Linked DNA regions of Homo sapiens: all the other regions are linked to region 1. The links come from fine-mapping of genetic effects on gene expression. A gene starts in region 1. Each other region holds a variant in brackets. All regions are shown on one strand. Distances are from middle to middle. Region 1 holds the start of MAD1L1 (mitotic arrest deficient 1 like 1). Region 2 has its middle 19 kb from the start of ELFN1-AS1. Region 3 overlaps MAD1L1 (mitotic arrest deficient 1 like 1). Region 4 has its middle 110 kb from the start of MICALL2. Region 5 overlaps MAD1L1 (mitotic arrest deficient 1 like 1). Region 6 overlaps MAD1L1 (mitotic arrest deficient 1 like 1). Region 7 has its middle 39 kb from the start of MIR4655.

What was found. PIP is the estimated chance that this variant, and not a neighbour inherited with it, causes the effect.
Region 2: its variant is fine-mapped to the expression of MAD1L1 in whole blood (TOPMed, PIP 0.95).
Region 3: its variant is fine-mapped to the expression of MAD1L1 in whole blood (TOPMed, PIP above 0.99).
Region 4: its variant is fine-mapped to the expression of MAD1L1 in monocytes after LPS (Quach 2016, PIP 0.95).
Region 5: its variant is fine-mapped to the expression of MAD1L1 in whole blood (TOPMed, PIP 0.98).
Region 6: its variant is fine-mapped to the expression of MAD1L1 in whole blood (INTERVAL, PIP 0.98).
Region 7: its variant is fine-mapped to the expression of MAD1L1 in whole blood (TOPMed, PIP 0.98).

The regions. Positions count from the first base shown.
Region 1 is chr7:2,231,020-2,235,019 of GRCh38, forward strand. It overlaps MAD1L1 (mitotic arrest deficient 1 like 1), which reads right to left and starts at 1,926. Exons shown (of 19, transcript NM_001013836.2): 1 at 1,853-1,926. It overlaps MRM2 (mitochondrial rRNA methyltransferase 2), which reads right to left. Exons shown (of 3, transcript NM_013393.3): 3 at 3,176-4,000. RefSeq lists silencers at 1,425-1,844, 1,822-2,200 and enhancers at 1,835-2,129, 1,915-2,044, 2,779-3,311.
Region 2 is chr7:1,759,308-1,763,382 of GRCh38, forward strand. No RefSeq gene overlaps it. Among named protein-coding and RNA genes, the nearest start is that of ELFN1-AS1, 19 kb to the left of the region's middle. The variant C/G (reference allele first, on the strand shown) is at 2,089.
Region 3 is chr7:1,903,952-1,908,026 of GRCh38, forward strand. The region is part of intron 17 of MAD1L1 (mitotic arrest deficient 1 like 1); the gene reads right to left. Among named protein-coding and RNA genes, the nearest start is that of MIR4655, 62 kb to the left of the region's middle. The variant G/A (reference allele first, on the strand shown) is at 1,928.
Region 4 is chr7:1,351,729-1,355,803 of GRCh38, forward strand. No RefSeq gene overlaps it. Among named protein-coding and RNA genes, the nearest start is that of MICALL2, 110 kb to the right of the region's middle. The variant GA/G (reference allele first, on the strand shown) is at 1,595.
Region 5 is chr7:1,920,104-1,924,178 of GRCh38, forward strand. The region is part of intron 17 of MAD1L1 (mitotic arrest deficient 1 like 1); the gene reads right to left. Among named protein-coding and RNA genes, the nearest start is that of MIR4655, 78 kb to the left of the region's middle. The variant G/A (reference allele first, on the strand shown) is at 2,499.
Region 6 is chr7:1,871,740-1,875,814 of GRCh38, forward strand. All of the region lies in intron 18 of MAD1L1 (mitotic arrest deficient 1 like 1), which reads right to left. Among named protein-coding and RNA genes, the nearest start is that of MIR4655, 30 kb to the left of the region's middle. RefSeq lists enhancers at 1,094-1,263, 1,894-2,866 and a cis regulatory region at 1,179. The variant C/T (reference allele first, on the strand shown) is at 2,019.
Region 7 is chr7:1,802,848-1,806,922 of GRCh38, forward strand. No RefSeq gene overlaps it. Among named protein-coding and RNA genes, the nearest start is that of MIR4655, 39 kb to the right of the region's middle. The variant C/T (reference allele first, on the strand shown) is at 1,614.

The sequences.
Region 1 (4,000 bases):
TCTGGCCTCTTGCCCAGGCAGGGTGGTTCACGCCTCTAATCCCAGCACTTCGGGAGGCGGAGGCAGGTCCGGAGTTCAAGACCAGAATGGCCAACATGGCAAAACCCCACCTCTAATAAAATACAAAAACTAGCCGGGTGTGGTGGTGTGCGCCTGTAATCCCAGCTACTCAGGAGGCTGTGGCACAAGAATCGCTTGAAACTGGGAGGCAGAGGTTGCAGTGACCTGAGACCGCACCACTGCACTCCAGCCTGGGTAACGGGGTGAGACAGTGTCTCAAAATAAATAAATGAATGAATAAATAAATAAATAAACATAAGCCAGGCACTGTTGCTCATGCCTGTAATCCCAGCACTTTGTGAGGCCAAGATGGGCAGATCACCACAGGTCAGGAGTTCGAGACCAGCCTGGCCAACATGGTGAAACCCCATCTCTACTAAAGCCAGATGTGGTGGCGTGCACCTGTAATCCCAGCTACTCCGGAGGCTGGGACAGGAGATTTTCTTGAACCCAGGAGATGGAGGTTGCAGTGAACTGAGATCGCGCCACTGCATTCCAGCCTGGGTGCCAGAGCAAGACTCCGTTTCAAAAAATAATAATAATTAATTAAAAAAAAAATCTGGCCTCTGGGAATCAGAAACGAGGCATGCAACAGTGACAGTAAAGATGATGATCATCACAGCTGTGCTCATTTTCATTGTTTATTTCTAGTGACATTAATAAGTACTACTACTATTTTCAACTAGGTATCAGAAAGAAAGGTATCTGACATTTCCGAGCACCGAGACTTCTTGAACTTCAGTTTCCTCATCTGTAAACTCATGACAGTGAAATCTACTTGCAAAGTTGTGGGGAACGGGGCCAATATCCCTCAAGTCTTCCACCGCTAGATGATGGGAATACGGCTGCAGGTTGACCAGCACTATATTTGTAAGCTCAGTCTCAACAGGGTGGTGAATTAGGTCTTTTTACACAGATTCTAGAGATGATGAAACCGAAGCTTCAAAAAGTTACAGAACGGAGATTGGAACTTGGGTCTGTCTGGCTTTGGAAGGCTGAAGACAAACCGCAGTAAAGAACTTTGCACCCCCAACACCGGCGCTTACTATGGGCTCATGGCAGGCCGGCCCACCAGCCACAACTAGGGAACAGCCAAGCGCGTTTAAAAGCCAAAGGTAGAACTTCTGCAGCTGCACAGTTTCTGAGTTTCCATTTAACAAGAACCTTGGCCTGGTGCAAGCAGAGGCCTGAGCTCCCCAGGCTGCCAGCCCCGCAGAGGCAGGCCCGCCTGGAAGGAGGCTCCACAGCCCAATTCCTCCATTGCCCAAACGAGATCAGGGTGGCCCTTGCCATCCCCGAGGGGAAACCGGGCCCACACGCCCCCTTCCTGAGAGCGGACCGGCGCGAGCCACCAGGATGCCAAGAGCCCCTGCAGCCCCGACTTCTCCACCAGGCGCCAGCTCAGGCCCCTTCCTCGGCGCGCCGGCACCCTAGCCCGGGGACCCACACGGTAGGCAGCGGGACCCCGGGGCTGGGACCACGAGCACGCGCCCCTCGGCCGCCCGCCCTGGCACAAGGGACGGCTGCGGAGACCCAGGCGAGGGGCCCGCTGTCCCCAGCACAGCCCAAAGGGGGAGTGGGGACAGGGGAGTGGGGAGAGGAGGGGAGAGCACAGAGAGGAGAGCGCGCCCATGGGAGACGGGGCGGGCGCGGGGTCCTGAGGCACGGGGTCTGGGTCGTTGTGCCCCACCCTGGCGAGCACACCCGGTCCGGGCCCTCGGCCCCTCCCTTGCCATTCCCGGGACCCCCGGGACCCCGGGACCCCGCCGCCCGCGCGAGCCGGGCCGCTTACCTCAGCCGCTCGCAGCCAGCTTGCCGCCGCCGCTCGGATCTCCCTCCGCTCCGCCGGCGCCCATTTATCGCGACACTTGCGCCTGCGCTCTCGCGAGACCTGCGTGGCAATCGGGCCGTAAAGAACCGAGTCTGCGCACCGGCTGATCCTGGGGACTCCGCGTCCGCACCCGGAGCCGCCACCCCTGGGAGACTCCGCACGGAAAGGACTCGGAACCGAAGGCTGAGCCAAGGCGCAGTCGGGGGCCCCCCGGCTTTGCGCAGGACGCGCTTCCACTAAGGCTTTCGCCTCGCGCCGTAATGTGTGGAATAGCCGCGCCCACGGCAGCCTCCTCGGACAAACTTGCACCGTTGACTCTTCCCAAAATTTTGCTACTCAGTATCAGCTTGAATCAATCCGTTATTTTGCTTTTTTCTGGGCCCACTAGAAATGCAATTTATGCTACTAGGCTACCTTCCCAGTGCTCTGCAAGCCAGGGCACAGCATCCAATGGGGTGAGGTCAGGCCCCACCATTATTATGGTAACCTTTGTCTATCCTTCAAATTGGAGCCTTCCTGAGAAGAGTGTGCCTTACTCGTTTCCATATTCTCTTCCTCTCCTCCTCCCGTCTCTGCCCAGCCCCTGGCTTCCCTCTAAGAAGATGCTGTTCCTAAGGGTCTGCAATGAATTTTCCTTCTTTCAGAGAAAGACTTCCAAGTTGTGTGCCCCGGGAATGAAATGGAATAAGAGAACGAGGTGGAGTAGGGCAAGAGTCCCTGGACTTAACAACCTGACTGCAACCAGAAATAAAATGAAAAGTCAAAACATCTGGCGGCCGGGCGCGGTGGCTCACGCCTGTAATCCCAGCACTTTGGGAGGCCGAGGCAGGCGGATCACGAGGTCAGGAGATCGAGACCATCCTGGCTAACACGGTGAAACCCCGTCTCTACTGAAAATACAAAAAAAAAAAAAAAAAATAGCCGGGCGTGGTGATGGGCGCCTGTAGTCCCAGCTACTCGGGAGGCTGAGGCCGAATGGCGTGAACCCGGGAAGTGGAGCTTACAGTGAGCCAAGATCACTTCACTGCACTCCAGCCTGGGTGACAGAGTGAGATTCTGTTTCTCAAAGAAAAAAAAAAATCAAAACATCTGACCCGCAGTTTCCTTCGGGGAGCTGGACAGAGCCCCAGATTCCTGATGGAGATTCCTGGGTTTCCAGACTTCCCCCACTGGTCCTTGGAATTTAATCATAGTCAACAAACTCTTCTTGAGGGATGAGTACACCTCCAGGAAATGGCTTTGAGGAAGCCAGTTTAAAAAAAACAAAACTTCAAAGCATGAAAGTACCTTAAAATAATGCAATCTCTATTATTTTATTAAATATAAAGCTGCGTCAAGTTCCTAGATGAGTAAAAGAAAATAAACACACCACATCACTGCTTGCTTTGGCAATTACATTTATGTTCTTGGGAGCCCAGACACTGATATAAATTTCCAGCAAAAACCAAAGCAGACCCACTGCCTGGATAAATTCAGACCATACGTCTTCCCTAATTGTTCCGGGAACTTTTGCTGCTTGAAGAATGCGTGAATTGCTATATTGTTCACCAGAAAGACAGAAGTTAATCCCCAGATGGAAATTTCAGATTTTTCTTTTGGTTTGCTTTTTGGTTTTTCATTTTTGTAGACATGGGGGGTGTTGCTATGTTGCCCAGGTTGGTCTTGAACTCCTGACTTCAAGCAATCCCCCAGCCTCAGCCTTCTAAAGCCCTGGGTTTACAGGCATGAGTGGCCTCACCCAGCCCCCAGATTTTCTACTTTAAACAGCCACACTAAGAACTGGAAATCTGTGCGTGGTGCTCTCAGAGCAGGGGTGGAAAGCCTGTTTGTGTGTGACAGTTTAACAGTCTATAAGATGAAGTCCCGTCAAGGCACACATGGGCACACCCATCCCTGCCTCGGCGGATTCCTTCTGATCCTTCCCACAGTCTGTTTTTCTCCATCCTTCCATCCTCACCTCTTTCTCTTGATAACTTTCTCTTCCCAAATCACAATATAGCGGACTTTTTCATTTTCCATGGCCCCTGAACTTAGTTTTGTCATCTCTTTTTGGTTAAAAAGAGAGAGAGAGAAAGAGAGAGAGAGACTCCCCACTTGTCCTGCTCCATC
Region 2 (4,075 bases), 470 kb before region 1:
CCCTGCTCGGGGACTCCGGTCTTGCCCTGTGCTACGGAACTGCACTGTGCCTGGCCTGACATCCTACCCAGCACACTCACCCACCGCGGGTGCCTGGAGCGCCACGGGATCTGCCGGCCAAACGGCCCAAGTGGCAGGATTCCTTGGACCTGAGCCTCGAGCTGTGGCAGAGTCCTTGCATCAAGGCGCCACTTGAACCTGGCATTTTCCATGCCTGTTGATGAGTGTGGCAGAGCCGTTTTACCTAACGCAGAATAATCTGCTCCTGCATCTAACACAGCCTACGGAGCCCGGTGCTCCTGTCTTCGTGGTAGAAGGTACTAGGCACCGTCGCTTGTCTTTTACCTTTCAGGAAACATCCCAGCCTGCCAAAGACTGTTACCAGGGGCCCCCTGGCCACCTGCCGAGTGGGTGGGGGCAGTATCAAGAGGTCATCCTTCAGGTCTGCAGGGCCACGTCTGGTACTAACTGTTTTAGGCTGAGCTTGCTCGAGGCAGAGCCTGAGACAGGAATTCTTTGCAAGTGATTAGGGGGTTCTCTCAGGAGGAAGAGGAGAGTTGTTTGTTTTTGTTTTTGAGACGAGTTTCGCTCTTGTTGCCCAGGCTGGAGTGCAGTGGTGCGATCTCGGCTTGCTGCAACCTCTGCCTCCCAAGTTCAAGTGATTCTCCTGCCACAGCCTCCTGAGTAGTTGATGACAGGCACCTGCCACCATGCCCAGCTAATTTTTGTATTTTTAGCAGAGATGGGGTTTCATCATGTTGGCCAGGCTGGTCTCGAACTCCTGACCTCAGGTGATCCTCCCGCCTCGGCCCCCCAAAGTGCTGCGATTACAGGCGTGAGCCACCACGCCCGGCCGGAAGAGGAGATTTGAACACGGACCACAGAGGGCCGGTGTTGTGAGGCTCCAGGGAGGAGACGGCCATCCACAAGCCAAAGAGAGAGGCCTCAGGAGGAATCAGCCTTGCCACACCTTGACCGAGGACTTCCGGCCTCCAGAGCTGTGAGCAATAAATGTCAGTGGTTTAAATCGGCCAGCCTGGGGTGTTCGTTATGGCAGCCCTCGCAGACCAGCACGGCCAGGACGCTGCCAGTTCCCGGCTCCACCTGCCCTTCCTCTGACAGGGAAGGAGAGTGGAGAAGTTGAGCTGCTTGGATGCCCTATGCCCTATGAGGCCTCTGCCTGATCCCACAGAGGACTCTGCAACACAGAAGGAATCACAGAATCTGCCCTGCCCTGGGTCCGTCAGGAACTTACTGCAGGCAACCAGGGGTGGGGACCGAACTTCCTGATACATCATTGCATTAGGGTGGGCAGCTCCAGGGGCTAAGTCTCCAGGGAGGGCTGCAGGGCCGCCACCTGCAGCTATGGGACCTGGGGGGCCAGACAGGCAGACAGACCCCACCCACCAAAAAGTCACACCGAGGGCCGGGTGCGGTGGCTCACACCTGTAATCCCAGCACTTTGGGAGGCCGAGGTGGGCGGATCACAAGGTCAGGAGTTCAAGACCGGCCTGGCCAATATGGTGAAATCCCATCTCTACTAAAAATACAAAAAAAAAAAAATTAGCTGGGCATGGTGGTGGTGGGCGCCTGTAATCCCTGCTACTCGGGAGGCTGAGGCAGGAGAATCGCTTGAACCTGGCAGGTGGAGGTTGCAGTGAGCCAAGATTGTGCCACTGCTCTCCAGCCTTGGGGACAGAGTGAGACTCCATCTCAAAAAAAAGAAAAAAACAAAAGCTGCACCGAGGCATGTGCCCATGGGCCCATGTTTATTTTGATGTGAAGATGTTTTGAACGCTTATTTAACAAAATTTATCCATCTCTTGTCTTTACAGATTCTGTTTTGTTTCAGAATTTCATAATAGTCCCATTCACAACAGCCAAAAATAGAAACGACTGAAGCGTCCACCAACAGGGGAAGGACCGAATTACAATATGACCAGAGACTAAACGCCGGCAGCGGTGAAGACGGATGGATCGCTGGCATTCTGCACAGCACGGGTGAGCTGCACCACACCATGCCATGCCGCAGAGGCCTCACCTGGAAGATTTCCACAGGCCCTATTTTTAATCACTAAGAAACCCAGA[C/G]TGCTCCTAATAGAAAATAATATATAATTTGCTTTTTGTTTTTCGATATCTTTTTTTTTCTTTTGGAGACAGAGTCTTGTGCTGTCGCCCAGGCTGGAGTGCAGTGGTGCGATCTCGGCTCACTGCAACCTCCGTTTCCCGGGTTCAAGAGATTCTCCTGCCTCAGCCTCCTGAGTATCTGGGATTACAGGTGCCCACTACCATGCTCGGCTAATCTTTGTATTTTTAGTAGAGATGGGGTTTCACCATGTTGGCCAGGCTGGTCTCGAACTCCTCAACTCAAGTGATCCGCCCGCTGTGGTCTCCCAAAGTGCTGGGATTACAGGCATGAGCCACCGCGCCCGGCCCAATATCCTTTTATCTTAAACATTTACTACTCTGGGATTTATTTCAGTTTGGCATACAAAGTAGGGAGCTTTGGAATTTTCTTTCAAATGATTGACCAGGTGTTCGGCACGGTTATCGAGCAATCCATTGTACACCCACTGACGCGAGACGCCACTCCCACCTCTCACTAAATCCTCGTCTAGGTGCTGTCTGTTCCCGGCTCCTGCGTTCTCACTCATTGATCTATCTGTCTCTTCCTCCCCAGATTCAGGTTGCTTTAGCTGGTTTAGCTAGTGATGCATTTTAATGTCTGATAGGGTAAGCCCTCTTCATTATTCCTTTCTATTCCCACATTTTTCTCTGCTGTTCTCATGAGAGCATTCTTCAGATGAGCCTTAGAATCACGATCCCACATTGCAGAACGCTTGCTGGGCTTTTGTGTGGGATTGCTTTAAATTTATAGACTAACTTGGAGGGAAATTACATCTTTATAATATTGTCTTCAATGCAGCAACATCGTAACTTTCCTTTTATGCAAAGTGGGTTTTTATATGCCCCAGTGGAGAAGACATTTCTTTTTCTTTTTTCTTTTTTTTCTGTGTGTGCGTGCGTTTGCGTGCGTGCGTGTTTGTGTGTGCACGTGTGTGTGCATGTGTGTGCGTGTCTGCACGTGTGTGCGTGTGCATGTGTGCATGCGTGTGTGCGTGTGCATGTGTGCGAGTGTGCATACGTGTGTGCTGTGTGTGTGCACGCGCGTGTGTGCATGTGTGTGCCTGTGTGTGCATGTGTGCCTGTGTGTGCCTGTGTGTGCATGTGTGCATGTGTGCATATGTGTGTGCATGTGTGCATGTGTGTGCCTGTGTGTGTACGTGTGTGCGTGTGTGTTAGTATCTACCCAGCAACCACTACCCCGGCCTCAGAGCCTCTTTCCTTCGCACTCCCAGGGATGCCGTCCCCACCAAAGGGGTGAAGCCATGAACCAATCGGAGCCAATCAGAGAACTCCATCTCCCCAACCACAGCAATGGATCACAGCCCGGCCGTCGGTCCCTCCGTGAGATTGGGTATATGGGTGTTGGGAAATGAAAGCATTTTCTTTCTCTGGAATTACCATCTGTAAGGATGGGATGGGTCTGGGGAGAGTCTGCCTGCCTGAGAAACGCAACAATAAAAACATTCGCGGAGCCCTTGCTGTGTGCCAGGCCCTGCTCTCCAAAGTTTACAAGCATGGACTCCTGTTGTCCTCACAATAACCGCATGGGGACAGATAGGAGTGATGTTCAAAACATTTAATAACTGGGCTGGGCGTGGTGGCTCACACCTGTAATCCCAACACTACGGGAAACTGAGGCAGGAGGAATGCTTGAGGCCAGGAATTCAAGACCAGCCTGGGCAACATAGTGAGACCCTGTCTCTAAAAAAATTAATAAATTAGCCGAGCGTGGTGGTGAGCACCTGTAGTTCCAGCTACTCAGGAAGCTGAGGCGGGAGAATTGCTTGAGCCCAAGAGGTCGAGGCTGCAGTGAGCTAGGATTGCACCACTGCATTCCAGCCTGGGCCACAGAGCGAGATCCCGTCTCAATAATAACAATAATGATGATGACTGGCAGGACCCCAGCACTGCCTGGTTGAAACGGACCCCACACCGGTATGTGCCAGCC
Region 3 (4,075 bases), 330 kb before region 1:
AGACACTCTTGCGGAACTCATGATTGATGAAGCACTGTTCCAGGCAGCGAGGACGCAGTGGCCTATGGAAGACGTTCTTGTGGAACTCATGATTGATGAAGCACTGTTCCAGGCAGCGAGGATGCAGTGGCCTACTGAAGACGCTCTTGCGGAACTCAAGATTGATCAAGCACTGTTCCAGGCAGCGAGGACGCAGTGGCCTATGGAAGACGCTCTTGCAGAATTCATGATTAATGAAGCACTGTTCCAGGCAGCGAGCACGCAGTGGCCTATTGAAGAAGCTCTTGCGGAACTCATGATTGATGAAGCACTGTTCCAGGCAGTGAGGACGCAGTGGCCTATGGAAGACGCTCTTGCGGAACTCATGATTGATGAAGCACTGCTCCAGGCAGCAAGGATGCAGTGGCCTATGGAAGACGCTCTTGCAGAATTCATGATTGATGAAGCACTGTTCCAGGCAGTGAGGACACAGTGGCCTATGAAAGATGCTCTTGCGGAACTCATAATTGATCAAGCACTGTTCCAGGCAGCGAGGACGCAGTGGCCTATGGAAGATGCTCTTGCGGAACTCATGATTGATCAAGCACTGTTCCAGGCAGCGAGGACGCAGTGGCCTACGGAAGACGCTCTTGCAGAATTCATGATTAATGAAGCATTGTTCCAGGCAGCGAGGATGCAGTGGCCTATGGAAGACGCTCTTGCGGAATTCATGATTAATGAAGCACTGTTCCAGGCAGCGAGGACGCAGTGGCCTATGGAAGACGCTCTTGCGGAACTCATGATTGATCAATCACTGTTCCAGGCAGCAAGCACGCAGTGGCCTATTGAAGACGCTCCTGCGGAACTCATGATTGATCAAGCACTGTTCCAGGCAAGCGAGGACGCAGTGGCCTATGGAAGACGCTCTTGCAGAACTCATGATTGATGAAGCACTGTTCCAGGCAGCAAGGATGCAGTCGCCTATGGAAGACGTTCTTGTGGAACTCATGATTGATGAAGCACTATTCCAGGCAGCAAGGACACAGTGGCCTACGGAAGACGCTCTTGAGGAACTCATGATTGATAAAGCACTGTTCCAGGCAGCAAGGATGCAGTGGCCTATGGAAGACGTTCTTGTGGAACTCATGATTGATGAAGCACTGTTCCAGGCAGCGAGGACGCAGTGGCCTACGGAAGACGCTCTCGCGGAATTCATGATTGATGAAGCACTGTTCCAGGCAGTGAGGACGCAGTGGCCTACGGAAGACGCTCTTGCGGAATTCATGATTGATGAAGCACTGTTCCAGGCAGCGAGGACGCAGTGGCCTACGGAAGACGCTCTTGCGGAACTCATGATTGATAAAGCACTGTTCCAGGCAGCAAGGATGCAGTGGCCTATGGAAGACGTTCTTGTGGAACTCATGATTGATAAAGCACTGTTCCAGGCAGCGAGGATGCAGTGGCCTACGGAAGACGCTCTTGTGGAACTCATGATTGATGAAGCACTGTTCCAGGCAGCAAGCACGCAGTGGCCTATGGAAGACGCTCTTGCGGAACTCATGATTGATGAAGCACTGTTCCAGGCAGCGAGGACACAGTGGCCTATGGAAGACGCTCTTGTGGAACTCATGATTGATGAAGCACTGTTCCAGGCAGCGAGGACGCAGTAGCCTATGGAAGATGCTCTTGTGGAATTCATGATTGGTGAAGCACTGTTCCAGGTGCTTGGAATAGCTCTGTGGGCCTGGGCTCTGTGACCTCCCTCTGGGACCTCTCCCGTGAGTGAGGCCGGCCTGACCCCCATCTGTGTCCTGGGATGATTTTAAGAGGAACCTGGGGCTGGGCACAGTGGCTCACACCTGTAATCCCAGCACTCTGGGAGGCCAAAGCAGGCAGATTATCTGAGGTCAGGAGTTCAAGACCATCCTGGCCAACATGGTGAAACCCT[G/A]TCTCTACCAAAAATACAAAAATTAGCCGGACGTGGTGGCGCACATCTGTAATCCCAGCTACTCGGGAGGCTGAGGCAGGAGAATTGCTTGAGCCCAGTAAGCAGAGGCTGCAGTGAGCCGAGATTGCGCCACTGCACTCCACGCTGGGTGACACAGTAAGACTCCATCTCAAAAAAAAAAAAAAAAAAAAAAAGAGCCGGGGCCTAGCTGTTTACCAAGCACCCGCAGGCACCAGGCAGCACTGCCCTGAGGAGACCAGCCCCTGCACAGCTGAGGCAGCTGGCCCACGTGGGAAGACCCCACAGGAGGAAGAGACGCCAGCCCTGGTGCTTCTGTAGGGTCCCCGAACCCCAAGCAGCCTCTTCCCAGGCTGGCCTCGGTTGTGTATGCCAACACCGCTCCTGCTACCCCGTCCAGGATAACCCCGGCCATGCAGACAGATCTCCATGCTCCCACAGCAAGACTTGAGCTGAGGCAGGGCTCTCTCCTGGGATATTCATGCCCTGCTGGGTGCCCCGGCCTGGCTGCCACTGCAGCTGCATCTGGCCCTAGCCTGACCTGGTCCCAGCCCCGCCCCAGGGCCCTGAGCCACCCTCCCTTTCCAGCTGCCTCTCCTGCACCCTGCTTCTCCATCGCTCCAGTCTCTGGCTCCTGTTCTCCGCATGCTCTTTTCCTGCAGGGCACAGATTGTGGCGTCCACAGAGCTGTTTGAGATGCCTGGGCCTCACGCTCTTTCCCTGCAGTGCAACTGGGCCTCATGCTGTTTCCCTGCGGCGCACCCTGAGCTCAGGTGGGCTGGGCCAGGCCTGTGCGCACTGTCACACCTGCCCTGCACCTGAGAACCCGGAACATGGAAGTGCGCGACGGGTGCGTGTTGAACACGCAGGTGAGCGAAGCCACCATCCCCTACAGACCTGAGCTCCTGCCCCTGCGCAAGCTACACAGTCAGCTTAACCACAAGCAAGCACACACACAGCGGACGGGACACACACGCCTACTGCTGAACGTCCGTTTATCCCCGAACACGTGTGCGTCTGTCCCTGAACACCCGTGTTCATCCCTGAACATACAGCCTTCCCATGGCCTCAGATGAAAAGCCCTTAAAATCAAGGCAGGCCGAAGAGAGGCCATGCCACTGCCCCGCCCCCAAGCCCCCAACCCCATCCCTGCTGTGGCTAACAGGGTCACTGTGAGAGCCAGGGGCCTCCAGGGGCTTCAGCCTGCGAGGGGCGGTGAGGGCACCCATGGCCTCAGAGCAGCTCCCAGCTGCTCAGCCCTTGCCACGCCCCCATCCCCACTATCTCCCCACTGCCACCGCCTTGCCCCTGTCCCACGGTCCCCCAGCTCCTGCCCGACCTGGACCGGTGCCCCAGTGAGGAGCTGGCCTGGGTCTGGGCCCTGCACAGCTGCCACCGAGGACCCCAAGCCCCAGACTCTGCAGCAACTCTCGATTTAGGGACTGGAGGCAGCTTCGGAACTTTTCCTTCAGGGACTCACGGCACAGCCATTTTTCTTTCTAAACAATGAATCAAATACAGTTAACCAATGTTGGGATTTTCAGGCTTTAAAAAACCCACAAAAAGGGACTAATATTTCACCATTAAACAAGGCAGCCCCTGAGGCCCAGGCCAAGCCAGGAGGACAATCCTACTCGGCGTAGGCCCGGCCCCACTGATGACGCCGCCACGGGGCCAGGAGGAAGGGAGTGATTCCAGGCTCCATACACTGCCTGTGCGTTCACGGACAAGTCACCTCATCTCTCTAAGCCCCCTTTCCTCCCTGGGTGTGGCAGGAGTGGGGGAAACATCACCTGCCCCCGGGTCAGTGAGACAGTGGAGGCGAAAACCCTCTCGGCAATAACGTGTTCCTCTTAATAAAACACATCCCTGTGTCGTCAACAACCACTTGGCTGTCTACGGACATCACGGGTGCTCGGCGCGGGATCTGAGTGGCGGGCCTGAGTCCAGGTGTGGAGTGAGGGGGCAGTGCGGTCTGGGCCGCAAGGACACCCAAAAGATCACCTGAGCATGGTCCGGAGAGACAGGGTGACCGCCCTGGCCCCTGCAGTGTGCGGCCCCCTCAGGAGACAGCGGCCCGTGACCCCAGAGCTCAGGAGTCCGGCCAGGGCCACCCTGCAAGGGTGAGAT
Region 4 (4,075 bases), 880 kb before region 1:
CCCATTGAATGCCCTTGTTGGAAAAAATCAGTGAACGAGTGTGTTTATTTCTGGTCTCTGAATTTTCTTTTATTCCCTTAATCTGCATGCGTGTCTTTACCCCAGGACCACACTGTGTTCATTACTGCAGCTTTGTAGTAAGTTTTGAAATCTTAGTAGGGGGTGGGGGCGAGGGGCAGCTGAGGGAAAGGCCACAGCCGCTGGAGTCCCCTGGCCCTCAGTTGGGGCCACCCAAGCTGCCCGGCCACTGGAGGCTGGGAGGGGCCCATTCCTGGTGGTCTCGGGACAGGCCTGGAGGCCCTCGGCTGTGGTGAGCCAAGATCTGCAGGGGGACTCGGGGCTGACCGAGCTGGCCCAGAGCAGATGGCGGCTCAGCGCCCAGGCTCAGGGCGTCCATCCTGCGTCCCATGAGCTATGGCTGCCGACCCCGATGGGTGCCGCGCTTTCCAGTTTGCTCCCTCCCGCGTCTCTGCTGACCATCCCCACCTGTAGGTGAGCACACAGAGGCTTGGAAGGTACTGAGGGTTTGTCTCTGCCCTGCAAGTCACACAGGGGAGTCCCCAGTCCCCTGGGCAGCATACGGGCCTCCCACGGGATCCCAACCCACAGCTCCTGGAGAGTCCTTTAGGACAAGACCCTAATGCTGCCCCTGAGGCCTTTGGGGCCTCAAACTCCAAAGAGAGAAGAGGCCATTCCCTGAGCAGGGGAGCCGCTGCGGCCGGGCCTCCTGCCCTAACACGCACGCCCGACGTGCTGAGCCAGTGCAGCGGCCCCACAGGTGCAGGCCCCCGCCCCCAGCTCCACACCATGCCCCCAGTACAGGGCCAGGACCTCCCCAGGCTAAGCTCCCGCTGCGTCCCAGAGGGATGTAAACCCCAGAGGGCCCCAAAGGAGCCCACGTTTGCCCCAACCTGTACATTCTATGCTCAGGTTTATAACCAGAGCTTCCAAGAGGAATCTGGGCAGCCACCGCCCACCCTACCCCACCCCTCCCTACATGGATAGCTACAGGCAGGGCCCAGGCCCCCATCACTCTCGGCCACCGGCACACAGGTCCAGGCCCTCGCCTTCTCCCAGGGCCCCCAATGCCTCTGCCAGGAAGCCTCCCCCACAGGCTGAGTTATTTACTTTCCTTAATAACCTTTTATGAGGGGCCTTGCCGCGGCCTTCAGGAGGACAGGGAACCGGCTTCGAGGTCATCCTTTGGCCGGGATTTTATTAACTTCAAGTCAGGCTCGAGGCAGGTGAAGGAGCCTCTCCTCCACCCCAAAGGGTTGTGAGGCGCTCCAGGTGAGGTGTGACTGCCCTGTTCAATTAAATCCTCCGTCTGCACCTCGGCCTGGGTGGCGGCGGCGGGCAGGAGACCCCGCAGCAGCTTCCGCGCGGCATGTCCCCTGCCCACCGCCTTCCCCACCCACTGGGCTCTGAACAGCAGACCTGGGGTTTCCAAAAAAATCAACTGTCAGCCGCGCGCGGTGGCTCACGCCTGTCATCCCAGCACTTTGGGAGGCCGAGGTGGACAGATCACCTGAGGTCAGGAGTTCAAGACCAGCCTGGCCAACATGGTGAAATCCCGTCTCTACAAAAAAAAAAA[GA/G]AAAAAAAAAAGTAGAAAAATAAGCCGGGCATGGTAGTGTGCGCCTGTAATCCCAGCTACTCGGGAAGCTGAGGCAGAAGACGCGCTTGAATCCAGGAGGTGGAGGTGGCAGTGAGCTGAGATTGTGCCACTGCACTCCAGCCTGGGCAACAGAGCAAGACCCCGTCTCAAAACAAAATAATAATAAAAATAAATTGAAATCGAGAGGAACGTTAGACAAACCCGAATTGATGGACATTCTACAAATATCCTGCCTGGACTTTTTGAAAATGTTAATTGCAGAAAAGATGAAGAAAGGCTGAGGGTCCCAGGCTGAAGGAGATGGGAGTGGTGTGCAGAGACAGCACCCTGTGGCCGTGGGCTGGATTCGGGACTCGGGATATGGTGGGATAAAGGGCATGATTTAAATGTGGGCCATGGAGCGGCCACCATCAACAAGACCTTGTCTTATTCTGCTCTAGTTGGTCACAAATGCAGAACCTCGGGCCCTGTCCCTGGCCAACTACACATTTTTAATTTTGCTTTTTTTTTTTTTTTTTTTTTTGAGACAGAGTCTCACTCTGTCACCCAAGCTGGAGTGCAGTGGTGTAATCTCACCTCATTGCAACCCCTGCCTCCTGGGTTCAAGCGATTCACCTGCCTCAGCCTCCTGAGTAGCTGAGATTACAGGTGCCCGCCACCACACCCAGTTAATTTTTGTATTTTTAGTAAAGACGGGGTTTCACCATGTTGGCCAGGCCGGTTTTGAACTTCTCACTCACCTCCAATGATCTGCCCGCCTCAGCCTCCCAAAGTGCTGGGATTACAGGCGTGAGCCACCTGTGTCCAAACCCTGGCTCGTTTCCTTGCAGGGCAATCTGTTTCCTCCTGTGTCTAAGCTTTGTCACCTGCGACATGGAGGTGCCTGAGGCACAGGCCTGTCGGGGATCCTGTATGGCCATGGTGTTGGTGACAGTGCAGGCAGGGGCAGGTTCCCGGCGAGGCTCTCTGAGCCCAGGCCTCTGCAGCTCACCGGGCAAGTACGGTTTCTCCGCTGCCCTGTCCATAGGCGCCACGCCGACCCCAAATCATTTGCACCCAGCACCTCTGTTTGGTGAAGACGATTTTGCAAACAGCAACTAGTTTAGATATCTAGAATGTTTCCCCAAAGCCTAGCACCCTTCAATTCCACCCTTTAATCACAATGAATAAAGCTGCACAGGACGTTGACTTCAGTGACGCAGGCGCTGGGGTGCCATTCTGTGCAGAGATGTTAAGGAAAATGCTTGGGAAACGGTTATAGCAAAGCATCAGCTCCCTCACCCCTTGCTCAGCACTCTGTGTCCAGGCCTTGCAGGTGCTGAGGACGCCCCATACCCAGGACGGCCCACCATGCCCAGGGAGCTCCTCTGCTGATGCCCACTGAGCCGGGAAGCACTTCCGTGCATGGCCCAGCCAGGCGGGAGAGTGCATTTGCTTTCTAGACGGAAGCAGGCTCCTTGCTCACCATCCCACGTTGCCCCTGGTTACCCTCCTCGCCCGGCCCTCTCCACAGTCCTCTGAGCAAGTGGGGGCCATCCCATTGCACGAATGGCCCAGAGCGGTGCATACTTTCCTGAGGCTGCCCAGACTGTGAGGGGTCAGGGGCACAGGGCTTCTGTCTCCAAGCTGCCTTGGGGCTGCTCCCAAGGGTGGGTCTGGCCCTGTCGGCCCCGCAGGCCCGCCTATCCCCACCCCCTGCTCACCTGCCCTGCACCTGCCGCCCCTCCCCTCGGGGCTGCCCCCGTCCCGGTCTTCGGCATCCAGCCTGGGAAGAGCCACCCAGCTATTTACCATGGACTCATTTAAGTTGGTTAATTTTTAATAATGTTGAAATTTCCATGTGAATAATTCAGGTAAATTATTTATTAAAGCGCAGGATAAAGGGACCAGGACAATTACCAGCTGACAGTGTTAGCTGCGGCATGGTGAGGTGGGTGAGGTGGGCGCGGTGCAGGCGGGAGGGAAGGCCTGCGGATGGGCGGTGTCACACTGACCCTCACCCTGGACACCAGGCCTAGGAGGGCTTGGCAGGGATGCCCTCCAAACCCTCTTCTCCCTCCACGGCCCCACTAACAGCCTGGCCACCTGACCCTGCAGCCAGATGGCCCCTGGCTCCCTCCTGAGCTCCATGCACCCACCTCCAGCCGCTTCCCTTACACCCCTGCGGCCCCTCTGGCATGAGGGAAGCCTGGAATCCGTCTGCCGAGGCCGGAGGGAAGTTTTCTATGCACCAATCTCATTCCGTCAGCCCGAGTCAGCCCCATGGCAGTGACTGACCATTGCACTTAGATAGGACACCCTGGACCCTGCGAGGCTCCTGGGGCCTGGCCAGCCTCGCTCCCCACTGCAGCCCGTGGCAGCCACTGGCTCCTCTGTGACCCTGCATGGCTGTTCCTCCTGCTGGCACAACGCTCCCTGAAGCCTCGCCCGCCCCGCCCACCATTCCAGCAGGAAGGGGC
Region 5 (4,075 bases), 310 kb before region 1:
TGTGTGGGCCCAGCATCCCTGTCCTTCCCCAGTACATGAGTGCTCCTGGGTCCCCGGCTTGCCCCCAACCCTGCAGCTCTCGGGACTTGCCTGTCATTGCGTGAGCCAACTCCCTGTAACAAGCATCTCCGTGTGCGTGCGTGCGTGCGTGTGCATGTGCGTGTGTACACACATTCTACGAGTTCTGTGTTTCGGCAGAACCCTGCCCAGTAAGCTCGCCCGGGGCTGTGTTGTCTGCAGATGGAGCAGCGACAGTGTGTGGGAGGAGCAGGGGCAGAGAAAGTCGGGGAGACTCGGCTGCCGTGGCAGCCTCACACTGTGTTGTGGACCCAGCGATTCCTCAGAGGCACCAAGGGAAGTGGTTAAAACAGGAAGACCCGCTGCACGCTCTCACCCACGGGAGCGGGGGGAACCCATCGCATGGAGTTGGGGGAGAAGGAGGGTGCAGGTGTGGGGTGGGCGGGGATGAACGGAGGCTGGTCAGTGGGTACAGACGCACAGCCAGATGGAAGGAGTAAGACCTCACGTTCCACAGCCGAGTGGGGGCGGACTACAGTCAGCCACATGTGCTGTCTACTTTAAAACAGTGAGAAGAGAGGACAGGAGGTCTTCCCAACACTTAGAAATGACCAGTCCATGAGGTGACGGATACCCCAAATACCCCTGTGTGGCCACTGCCCATTCTGGGCATGCAAGACAACATCACCTACACCCCATAACGATGCACGAACACTGTGTATCCATTTAAAAACCGACAGCAAAAAACCCTAATCTTCATTGACTGAATAAAAAAGATTCACGGGACATCCGGTCCAGACAGAAAAGGGTGCAGATTCATGTTCCCTGCTCCTCCTGCAAAGCTCGGCTCTGAGCCCTGGAGACGACGAGACAGGCAACCCAAAGAGAGGGTGGGGAGGTGGGAAGAGGGCGGAGAGGCGGCCTGGAGCCAGCAGTGGGGACTCAGGACCCCTGCCCAGCAGATGGCAGCCCAGATGACACACTCCTGCCTGGACCGGAGCCTGCAAAGGGAACCCCGGCACGCTGCGGGTCTGAGACGTGGTATCGGTGAGGGAGGCGGCCCTGAGGCGCCCTTCCCTGCTCAGACACAGACGCTGGAAAGCCAAAGATTCTTCCACTAGATTAACCTATAACTTCAGTGTAATTTCAGTAAAAAATAAAACCTTGATACCTTTTTTTTGAATTTGACTAATTCTTTTTTTTTTTTTCTTTTTGGAGACAGGGTCTATCTCTGTTGCCCAGGCTGGAGTGCAATGGTGTGATTTTGGCTTACTGCAACCTCCATCCCCCAGGTTCAGGCGATTCTCCCACCTCAGCATCTATAGTACCTGTAGCTGGGACTACAGACACCCTCCCGCCACGCCTGGCGTTTTGTGTTTTTAGTAGAGACAGGGTTTCACCTTGTTGGCCAGGCTGGTCTTGAACTCCCGACCTCAGGTGATCCACCCGCCTCAGCCTCAGTGCTGGGATTACAGGCATGAGCCACCGCGCCTGGCCGTGACAAAGTAATTCTAAAATTAACTTAGAATAATAAACAGGTAAGAAAACCTTTAAGTCAAAAAAAAGGATAAATGAAATTAAAAAAAACAAAAGATCTGAATACAGACCCGATTTTGCCTAAGTTTTAATAAAGATGAAGGTATAAATCTACGGGGAAGGAAGGATTCTGAGATAAATGGCCCTAGGGCAATTGTTTAGTGATCTGGAAAAAAAATCAATTTAGATCTCGACCTCATACCATACACCAAAATAAGTTTCAAGTAGATTAAATCTTTAAATATAAAAATAAGCTCAAAGAGCCCAGAAGAAAATAGAATTATTTATCAAATCACTAAAGTACTTACTAAGCTTAAAAGCAACGGAATTAACAGATAAGAGAGAACCTGAAGACGAGGGGTTCAGGTTCTGGGAAAGATGAAGAAACCAATCAGCCCTGTCTCTCCCTGAGGCAGCTCTGACGATGGAGGGAGTGCAGCCAGCAGCCGACTACAGACCTGGAGAGCCACAGGCTGCAGGCGGGCTGAGGTCGGAACCCAGAACCACTAGCATCACCAGCCCAGCGGCGAGCGCCCTGCTTCCAGCTGCGAGAGACATGCAGCTGGACCTGGCCGCGCCGCGTCTTTACTGCGCTGCACCCCACGAGCCACGAAGGCAGAGTCTCCATTCACACAGACCTCCCACGCCTCGCCTCAGCAGCTTGCCGTTGTCGGCGTGCTGTGGTGTTAGTGATGCCTGCAGATTTCATCTTCAGAAGAGTGAACAGAAACGGCATGTTTTTAATTTCGGTTTCCACATGTGCACTGCTATTGTGTAATATTTACAGAACTACACAGACACACGGACATATTTCTCATAAAGTGAGCTCAGCAAGGTTGCAGGATACAAGAGCCACACACAGAAATCCCGGGTGAACTCGCTCGACTCGTTTTTATCTTGTGATTTTCGACATAATCACGCCACCTGTGAAGAGGAAAAGGGTC[G/A]GTCCTGCCTTTCCAGTCCGTGTGCCTTCGACCTCCTCACCCTGCTGCCCATCTGGGGCTCTGGGACATGGACCAAGGCGGTGAGAGGGAAGGCCTCTGCCTGAGTCGGCGTTTCCCAGTCCCTCACCAGCCAGGTCTGCGGTGAGCTGCACGGTTTCTGCAGATGCTCTTTGGCAAACTTGGGGGTTCTCGGCTTCTCCTGGTTTGCCGAGTTTCCCCATGAACGTGTGTTGGGCCTCGCTGACTGCATTTGTGCATCCGTTGGTTTGGCCATGTAATTTTTCCTTTTGGCGAGCTGACGCGATGGATTGTACCAGCTGACGCTCGACACCAACCCAGCCTTGCACTCTCAGAAAACAGAAAATAGCCCCGCAGTGTTCTTCAGTTTTGCCACTGGTTTTGAAGTTGGGGTAAATGCTTGCTTCACAGAGTGAGTTGGGAAGTGCTCCCTCTTCTGTTTTCTTGGAGAGTTTTGGCAAATTGGTGCTAAGTTTTCTTTAAGTGTTTGGTAGAATTCACCAGAAAACCATCTGGGCCTGGAGATATCCTTTTTTGGAAGCTTTTTGATTGTGGATTCAGTTATTTAATGGTTCTAGGATTAATGAGACGATCTATTTCATACTGGGTGAGTTCTGCAGTCTGTGGTTGAAGCTTGCTGGAGTTTCTGTCACTGGTTGGGTGTTTGCCCTGGTGCTACCCAGTCTGGACTTGGGGACCCCTAAAACCTGGGAGTGAGCACAAGACGCACACAGCTTGTCAAGAGAAGCCTGAGAGGCAGTGTGGGAAATTCTGTCTGTCTCCATCCTCTTCTACCCTGACACCCAGGCAATCCTGCGCTCTTCCGCCCCGGCACCCTGGCACCCCCGCGCTCTTCCGCCCCGGCAGCCGGGCAACCCCGCGCTCTTCCGCCCCGGCACCCGGGCAATCCTGCGGAGGTACAGCCACAGCTGGACAGACGCCTAGAGCCCAAGAGTGGGCCCCTCCCTCCAGACAGGGTGCGTGGGGCATGTCCTGCCCTGTTCCAACGCTGTGGCTGGCGTTGGCCGTGAAGGCGGCTGTGGCCGTGGGACTGACTGCACAGCACAGTGGGCAAGCCTTGCCTGGCTCTGTGGCCAGAAGGCAGTGAAGGGAACCCTGGGTCACCTGGGAAGTGCTGGGTGCTCAGAGTGGCTCTGGAAGGTGCCCTCTAAGCTGGGCATGGGGCTCTGACCCTAATCAGCACCCCACAGGTGTGAGAGTTGGACTCTGAGCTAGACCACACCAGGACCCAGCCAGGACTGTGGAGGACACAAGGTTCAATGGCCTGGGAAACTCGGCAAAGAGCCTGAAATGGAAGTGCCATCAGGAAATGCTGAAACCAACAGAAATTTACATTCTCCAGAGAACTTAAGAAAGACCTAGAATCTCGGGATATTCAAAACATCCAGAATGCAATCTAAAATTAAGCAGCATGAAAAGAACCGGGAAAACAGAAACCTGCCAGGGAAAACACGACCAACAGGCGCCAAGATGACGGAGATGCTGGAATTATCGAGTGAGATTTTAAAGACGCTCCAAGAAGCAAGTGATTGGAAAAC
Region 6 (4,075 bases), 360 kb before region 1:
ACATACGCCTGCCACGCTGAACCCAACATACGCCTGCCACTCTGAACTCCTGCACCTGTGATGGCGGTGCAGGCTTCCCCGGAGGGCCAGCAGCTCGGAGCCCCAGAGGAGATGTGGAGGGGACATGGAGGGGACAGGGTCTAGGGTCCCCACACTTGGGGGTGGAGGAGATGAGAAGAGAGGGGGCAGAACTACGGTGGCTCAGAGCCCACAGGACAGAGAAAGCAGAGGGAGGGAGAGACAGGATGAAGACCTCTCATCTCCAGGCTCTGCTGTGTTCCAGCATGACTCCCAGGCGGCAGCTCCTGCTGACAGATACAGGCCCAAACAGCCCAGTCCAGGCCCCAGGCCTTGGGGAGCCTCCTCCACACCCTGCAGGCCATCTGCGCTCCCTCTGTCCCCTGTCCCGCGACAGAGAGGCTGACACCTACCCCGCAGGGCTGCCTGCAGGGTCAGACATGCACACTGTGAGCCCCACGGGGTGCTGCAGGCCTGGGACTCAAACACTCTATAGAGAGGATCGGGGCCACACTGGGGCTGCCGCACCGTTTCCCAGATGACAGGTCATGCCCAGCGGCCTGGCCGATGGCCCTGAGCCCCAGGAAGTGAGGCCCCTGGTCCAGGTGCACCAGGCCTCCCCACAGCACCTGCTCCTGGGTGAGCCCTCACCCTCTGCGCTGCGGCTTCCCCGTCTGTCTCTGCTCCCAGGCCCTGAGCCTCAGGGCAGGCAGCTCCTCCTGTTCATGTCTAGCCCATGTCTGGCATCCAACAGTCGCCTGCGACACCGAACTGGGCTCAGCTGAACGAGAGGCCTTTCTTTCCAGAACAGGATCCAGGCTGAAAATCACCTCCAGGACGCAGCCCAGGGCAGAGGCCGCTCTCTGCTCCCGCCGGCTCACACTCACACGGGCAGGTCTCCAGGGCTGTCCTCCTGGCTGCGGACTCCTGGGCACTGGACCGTGCCTCTCTCATCTGCCCCCAGCACAGGGCCAGACACGGGTGATATGGAGAAACGCTTGCTGAACGAATAAACACAGGAATGAAAAGCCAGCTCCGAGCCTTCTGTGTGCTGAGATCGAACTCCACAGTGAGGATCGTTCTGTTTGGAGAGGACACCGCGATGGACGTCAATAAAACGTCAACGCTTCCAGTCAATTCAAACACCCAGGGTGGGGGGCGCGTCAGAAGGAGAGAAAGCCGGAAACTGTCACGGAGAGAGAGATGGCCGTGATCTTTAATCCAGAAATCCCACTTTGGGGACTTTATCCCCAGGTGAGAAACGGAGAGAAGAAAGGGCCCAGCCCAGCAATGACGCAACGAGTCACACAGGGAAGGGCTGCATGCCGAGCCGTGGAGGAGCGGGGAGGAGCCCCCCGTGGGGCTGGTGGGCCCGGTTCCAATTCTGGTGCAGCCTCTCCTGCCTCAGTGTCCCTTTTCATAAGGGGGGCCTTGACCCCCACCGTAAATGTGTGCAGGGAGCCTGGCTCACAGGCCCCATCCCCGGCTGGGGAGTCCCCTCTGGACCTCACGGGCTGGGGCGCGAGTCCGGGTCCTGTCCTGGGGCCTCAATGGGCTAGAGAGCGCCAGCCCTAAATGGGGTTGTAATTACAGCAAGAGGGTGGGAGCAGGGGCAGGGCTCTGGGAGGAGGTTGGGGAGGCCTCAAGGAAGGTGGCATTTGGGCTGAGTCCTGGAGGATGCGAGGGGCGGTGGGGAGGGGCAGGTGGGGAGCCCTGGTGGAGAGCTAGTAGGAGCACGGCACGGCCGGGGCTGGACAGTGCTGAGGGGTACGGGCAAAGCACCTGGGCTCTCTACGGATGGGGGCCAAGGGGCTCTTCTGGGGCTGGGCAGGGGGCTCTGCGGTGGATGGAGGGGTAGTGGGAGATCCTGGCAGGGGACACACCAGCTGCCCACTGCTGCCTCCCTCACTGTAACCCCCGACCACCATGGGGGAGTGGGCACCCCGGGTGCAGGATGTGCCCTGACAAGGGCCGCAGCTCACCCCTGATGGACACCCCCA[C/T]CGAAGCCCAAGCTGGCCCTGAAGCCCAGTGGGGAGACGTGTGTTTGGGGAGCAGGCAGGGCTTATCCTGCCTCCAGATGCTGAGGGACTCCTGGCCCTGAAACTGCTCCCCGTGGCTGAACGAGAATGGATGCTGAGCCCATCAAGTCGGCACCAGGGAGGAAGCGTGGAGCACACAGGCCCAGGCTGAGGCCAGAGGGCCTCTTGGAGCACCCCACGCCAGGGTCAGTTCCGGTGGGGAGGCGTGGAACACACACAGGCCCAGGCTGAGGACAGGCGGGCCTCTCTGAGCACCCCATGCTAGGGTCGGTGCTTCTGCCTGGCCACCGGGGATCCCGGGACGGTGTTCCAGGCTCTCCATCTGCACCGGAGTGGGGATGGAAAACGAAGGTCAGGCTGCCCAGCAGACAGTGGCTGGCGCCAGAGGTCAGTGCAGCGAGGCCGTCTCGGTGCACGGCTGGTAAGACCCGGGGTCTCCCACCAGCGCATCAGCTTTGGGGAGGTGACACACACTGGCAGACAACCGTGTCATCGCACGGCCAGGCTGGGCCACAGTGCAGAGGACAGAGGGGGTGACCGTGGCTTGGGATGGTCAGGGAAGCGTCTCAGGAGGAGACGTTGCAGCAGCACCGGGACGGGGGTAAGACGGTGGCCAGGCCGTGACATCGAGGGTAGCACCCGCCGTGGCCAGGGTGAGGCTCTGGTGGAGGAGAGGAGGCGGAGGGCTGACCTTTTGATCTTGATAATCCTATAGCTTTCCGCACAGCTTGTGGCTGAGTGCGGCTTCCTTAAAAAAAAAAATAAAAGCGCTGTTGAGTGGCTCTCACCTATCAGCATTACCCAGAGGCAGGTGGCTCTTCATCGATCGCCTGGTGGGCTTAGGAATTGACCCAGGAGGGAAAAGCAGCTCGCAGCACACCACCTGCTACCTGCTCGATTGGGGCCTTGTGTGGCTCAGCAGGACCCACAGGCCCTCCCGCCTGGGCACTTAGTGTACACGGGGAGGGGTGGGGCTGGAGGGCTCCAGGAGAGAGAGGTTGGGTAGGATGGTAGAGAGGAGGGGCAGGTATAGGGAGGAGGGGAAGGCAGGGAGAGAACACAGAGGCCTCCGGCTCTGCAGCATGGAGACCGGCCACACCCCAGGCCTGGCCATAGGCACCCTGCACCTGTGCCCAGTGAGTGGCCCCCACCCCGGGCCCCGGCTGGGCCTGGGAGCTCCAGGGCAGGCATACTCCGAGCCAAGGGCCTCCTTCCCCTCTGCAGGGCAGGCTGGGCAGGTACAATCAGGACAAGCTCCCTGTGAGACTGGGGACCCAGGCCCAGTCCCAATCCAGGTGAAGGTCCCTTCCTTCTGCCCCAGAGACGACTAACGAGCAGCTCCCCTGGCTGCCCCAGAGCCCCCCACAGGGGCCATGGCTTCTGACCCTTCAGACTCAGCTGTTCCCAGGGGCCCTGCTGCTGCCCTGCCCGCCCCCACGGCTGCACTCAAGCCTGCGCTGTGCACACCGAGGCCAGCTGAGTACCGGATAGGACCTGGGCTGAGGCTGCCCAGCTCACAGGGAAGCAGAAGCCGAGAGACCAAGAAGAAAACATCCCCCAACTGGCTGACAGTCGCCCTCCTCGACCCCAGATGCCACTAAGAACAACGCGAAGTTCTGGCACGCAGGGAGGGAAGTCCGTGTTGACTTGGGGGCGGGTCTGCAGCAGGAAGGCTGGGCACACCCTCCACTGGCTGCTCACTAACTCCCCTGCTGGCAGAACCTTCCGCTGCACAAGCAGAGGAGAAAGGAAGGCGTGGAACACAGCAGGTGGCCCACACGGGCTGGGAGGGGCAGGGAGAGGAAAGGCGGCAAGGTTCCCAGCAAAAGAGAAGACGCCACTCCAGGAACCCCGGGAGGTATAAGGGAACCCTGTTTAGTAACGCTGCATGTGCAACAGATAACAGGTAGTTCACGTGCACAGACGTGTGCGAACATCTATGATGTAACCGAGCGGGGCTGTGCAGAGCAACTGTTACAGGCTGAACTGTGTCCCCCAAATTTAGATACTAACCTAAT
Region 7 (4,075 bases), 430 kb before region 1:
CAGTTTTCTTGGTCACTTAAAGTTTTTCCGATCACTCATCCCTAAACTAGAAACCGGGCTTCAGGAGCCCCTTGGTGGCTTGAACAGAGGAGATGGCCAGTGGCTGGTGTGGGGACAGCCCAGGAGAATGACTTGTTTTGTGACATCCGAGGCCTCTCTGGAGTCCCTGGCTGGGGGTGGAGATGGTGCTCACTCTAGCAGAGAAATTCAGCTTCTGCCTGACTCCAGGTCACACTGGGCCAGCAGCCTGCAAGAGAGACCTGGCTTCACACCCTCTACATGGGACAAACTCTAAGATATACACAAAGAGGAAAGAAACACAAAAAGCAGCCCAACAGTCAGAGACAGGTTTATTTTGGAGGAATAAACCAGAGAGGGGCTTCTGGCCGATTTTTGGTCAGGAGTGCTCTTTTTTTTTTTTTTTTTTGAGATGGAGTCTTGCTCTGTCGACCAGGCTGGAGTGCAGTGGCGTGATCTTGGCTCACTGCAACCTCTGCCTCCCGGGTTCAAGTGATTCTCCTGCCTTACCCTCCCGAGTAGTGGGGACTACAGGCACCCGCCACCACGCCCAGCTAATTTTTTTATTATTAGTAGAGATGGGTTTTCACCATGTTGGCCAGGCTGGTCGCAAACTCCTGACCTCATGATCCGTCCGCCTTGGCCTCCCAAAGTCCTGGGATTATAGGTGTGAGCCACCACACCCAGTCAGGAGCGCTCTCTCTTACAGAGTAAGGGTATATATTGGTTTTAGGGTGAGGGGGCTTATCACAAGTTTGGAATGTTTCTGTGTGGGGCAGAAGTTTTATGGTGGGGTTGGAATGTCTCTGGGAGGAGGGCAGGTTGTCTGTGGGCTGACTTCTTTCCGGCTGGAGGGGGGTTATCTCAGGGCTGGCGTATCTCTGGTTGGGGAGGGGTTTGGAATGTTTCTGGACGGAGATGTTATTTGTGGTTTATGGTCATGCTGACCTTAGCCATTAGGCTGATGCCCTTTGGATGTAGGCGGCTTTTGATCAAAGTGAACTTTAGAATGGTGGTATTTGTCCAAGATGGGAAAACTCCTGCTCTGTCACAAACTGTTACCGGAGAGGGGTCCCGATCCAGACCCCAAGAGGGGGTTCTTGGACCTCACACAGGAATTCAGGACGAGTCCATAGCGTCACATGAAAGCAAGTTTATTAGTGAAGTCAAGAAACAAAAGGGTAACCACTCCATAGGCAGAGCTGCCGGGGCCGCCGGCTGGCTATTTTTATGGTAATTTATTGAACATATGCAAAACAAGGGGTGGATTATTCATGAGCTTTCTAGGAAAGGGGGCGGAGAGTTCTTGGAACTGAGGGTTCCTCTCCTTTTTAGACCATAGAGGGGAACTTCCAGGCGTCCGCATGGCATCTGTAAACTGTGGTGGCGCTGGTGGGAGTGTCTCTTAGCATGCCACTGTATTATAATTAGCACATAATGAGCATCGAGGATGACCAGAGGTCATGTCCGTCGCATCTTGTCAATAATGACCAGAGGTCACGTCCGTCGCCATCTTGGTTTTGGTGGACTTTGGCCAGCTTCTTAGCCACGTCCTGTTTTATCAGCGGGGTCTCTGTGTCCTGTGTCTTGGGACC[C/T]CCTGTGTCATTCTGTGACGAGGAACACCCAGCCTCCTGGGCTGCAGCCGCGCAGGTCTCAGCCCCATTTTTCCCAGCCCCTGTTCAAGATGGAGTTGGTCTGGCTGGAAGGCCTCTGACGAAAGCGCCTCCTCGCGTCTCTGTTCCGGGATCTTTCATCTCCAGGGGGCTCCTGCGTATGCGGAAACGCCCTCCCGCCTGTCTCTGCTTGTCTCCTGATCAGTTCACTCGCCTTACAAACCTCCTAAGTCTATGTCCCTAAGTATTTAAACACAATTGCACAATTAATGAATCCCAATTTAAAAAATTAACCAATAACATTTCCCAGGTATTTAAGTATTGATTACAGACTTTAATCAAATACTTCTAAATATTAAAATCACAAGCTAAATGTGCTTAAATCACATAGCTAAACGTGCTATGGACCAAATTGCGCGCTCTCCAAATCCACGGTGCAGCCCCAGCCCACGTGTGACCGTGCTTGGAGATAAGGCTTTAAGGACGTGATTAAGGTTGAATGAAGTCCTAAGCGTGGGGCCCTGATCTGATAGGACTGTGGCCTTATAAGAAGAGAGCTCTTTCCTCTCTCCTCCTCTTTCCCTCTCCCCCTTCCTTCCCTCCCAGCCATGGGAAAAGACACCACTCACAAGCCACAAAGAGGCCTCCCCAGGAACTGAACTAGCCCGCACCTTGATCTTTGCCTTCCAGCCTCCAGGACGGAGAGAAATGGATTTCTGTTGTTTGTAAGCAGCCTGGTCTATGAGATGTTGTTGCGGCAGCCTGGGGGGACGCACACACTACAAGTTATTCCCAGGACTTAAAAGCATAGTGCCAGCTGGGCGTGGTGGCTCACACCTGTAATCCCAGCACTTTGGGAGGCCAAGGCGGGCAGATCACGAGGTCAGGAGTTCAAGACCAGCCTGGCCAACATGGTGAAACCCCGTCTCTACTAAAAATACAAAAATCAGCTGGGTGTGGTGGTGTGCGCCTGTAGTCCTGGCTACTTGGGAGGCTGAGGCAGGAGAATTGCTTGAACCTGGGAGGTGGAGGTTGCAGTGAGTAGAGATTGCACCACTGCACTCCAGACTGCGTGACAGAGCGAGACTCCGTCTTGGGGGAAAAAAGAAAAAAAAAAAAAAACCCAGTGTCAGAGGGTGGGAGGGTTTTGGGGTATGATGGAGTGGTGGGTTCACGACTGCATGTTTTTCTTTTCTTTTCTTTTCTTTTTTGAGATGGAGTTTTTTTGCTCTTGTCGCCCAGGCTGGGGTGCAGTGGCGTGATCTCGGCTCACCGCAACCTCCACCTCCCGGGTTCAAGCGATTCTCCTGCCTCAGCCTCCCGAGTAGCTGGGATTACAGGCTCGCGCCTCCACATCTGGCTAATTTTTGTATTTTTAGTAGAGATGGGGTTTCACCATGTTGGTCAGGCTGGTCTTGAACTCCTGACCTCAGGTGATCTGCCCGCCTCGGCCTCCCAAAGTGCTGGGATTACAGGTGTGAGCCACTGCACCTGGCCATGTTTCTTTTCTTGAGACAGAGTCTTGCTCTGTCGCCCAGGCTGGAGTGCAATGGTGCGATCTTGGCTCACTGCAACCTCCATCTTCTGGGTTCAAAAAATTCTCCTGCCTCAGCCTCCCAAGTAGCTGGGATAGCAGTCATGTGCCACCTCACCCAGCTAATTTATTTATTTTTCATTAATTAATTTTTTTTTTTGAGACAGTCTCATTCCATCAGCCAGGCTGGAGTGCAGTGGCGTGATCTCGGCTCACTGCAAATTTTGTCTCCCAGGTTCAAGCAATTCTTGTGCCTTAGCCTCCCAAGCAGCTGGAATTACAGACATGTGCCACCACACCTGGCTAAGTTTTGTATTTTTAGTAGAGACAGGGTTTCACCGTGTTGGCCAGGCTGGTCTCGAACTCCTGACCTCAAGTGATCCACCCGCCTTGGCCTCCTGAAGTGCTGGGATGACAGGCATGAACCACCGTGCCTGGCCAGTGCTTTTTCTTTAAACTACAAACTCCGTCTCCTTCCCACGTACATTTCTCCCGCTCTCAGTGACCACCACTGTATGGCTGTGTTGCTGGTCTCCCTGAGCCTCGGTTTCTCTTCTGCAACCTGGGGGCCCACTCCGGGAGTGAATTGGGAAAAAGCAACTCAGCTGAAGCCTCCAAGCCTCCTCCCGCTCCCTGGCGATCTCCCGGGAGGCTCCTGTAAGGCATGGGCTGGAGGTCGGGGGGCTCGTGGCTTAGAGGTGACTGCTGAGAAATAATCATAACGAAAGGGAAAAACTGAATTTCCTGACAAAAAGGGGGAATCAGATATTTAAGGCAGTCAGTGGGGCTCTTGGCGGCCGTTGAAACCACACTTCTGGAGGAACATAATGGCGTGGACAGAGCCTCATATTCTAATTTTCAGTGAAAACAGAAATAACGTAAAACAGCATATGCAGTATGGTCCAAATTC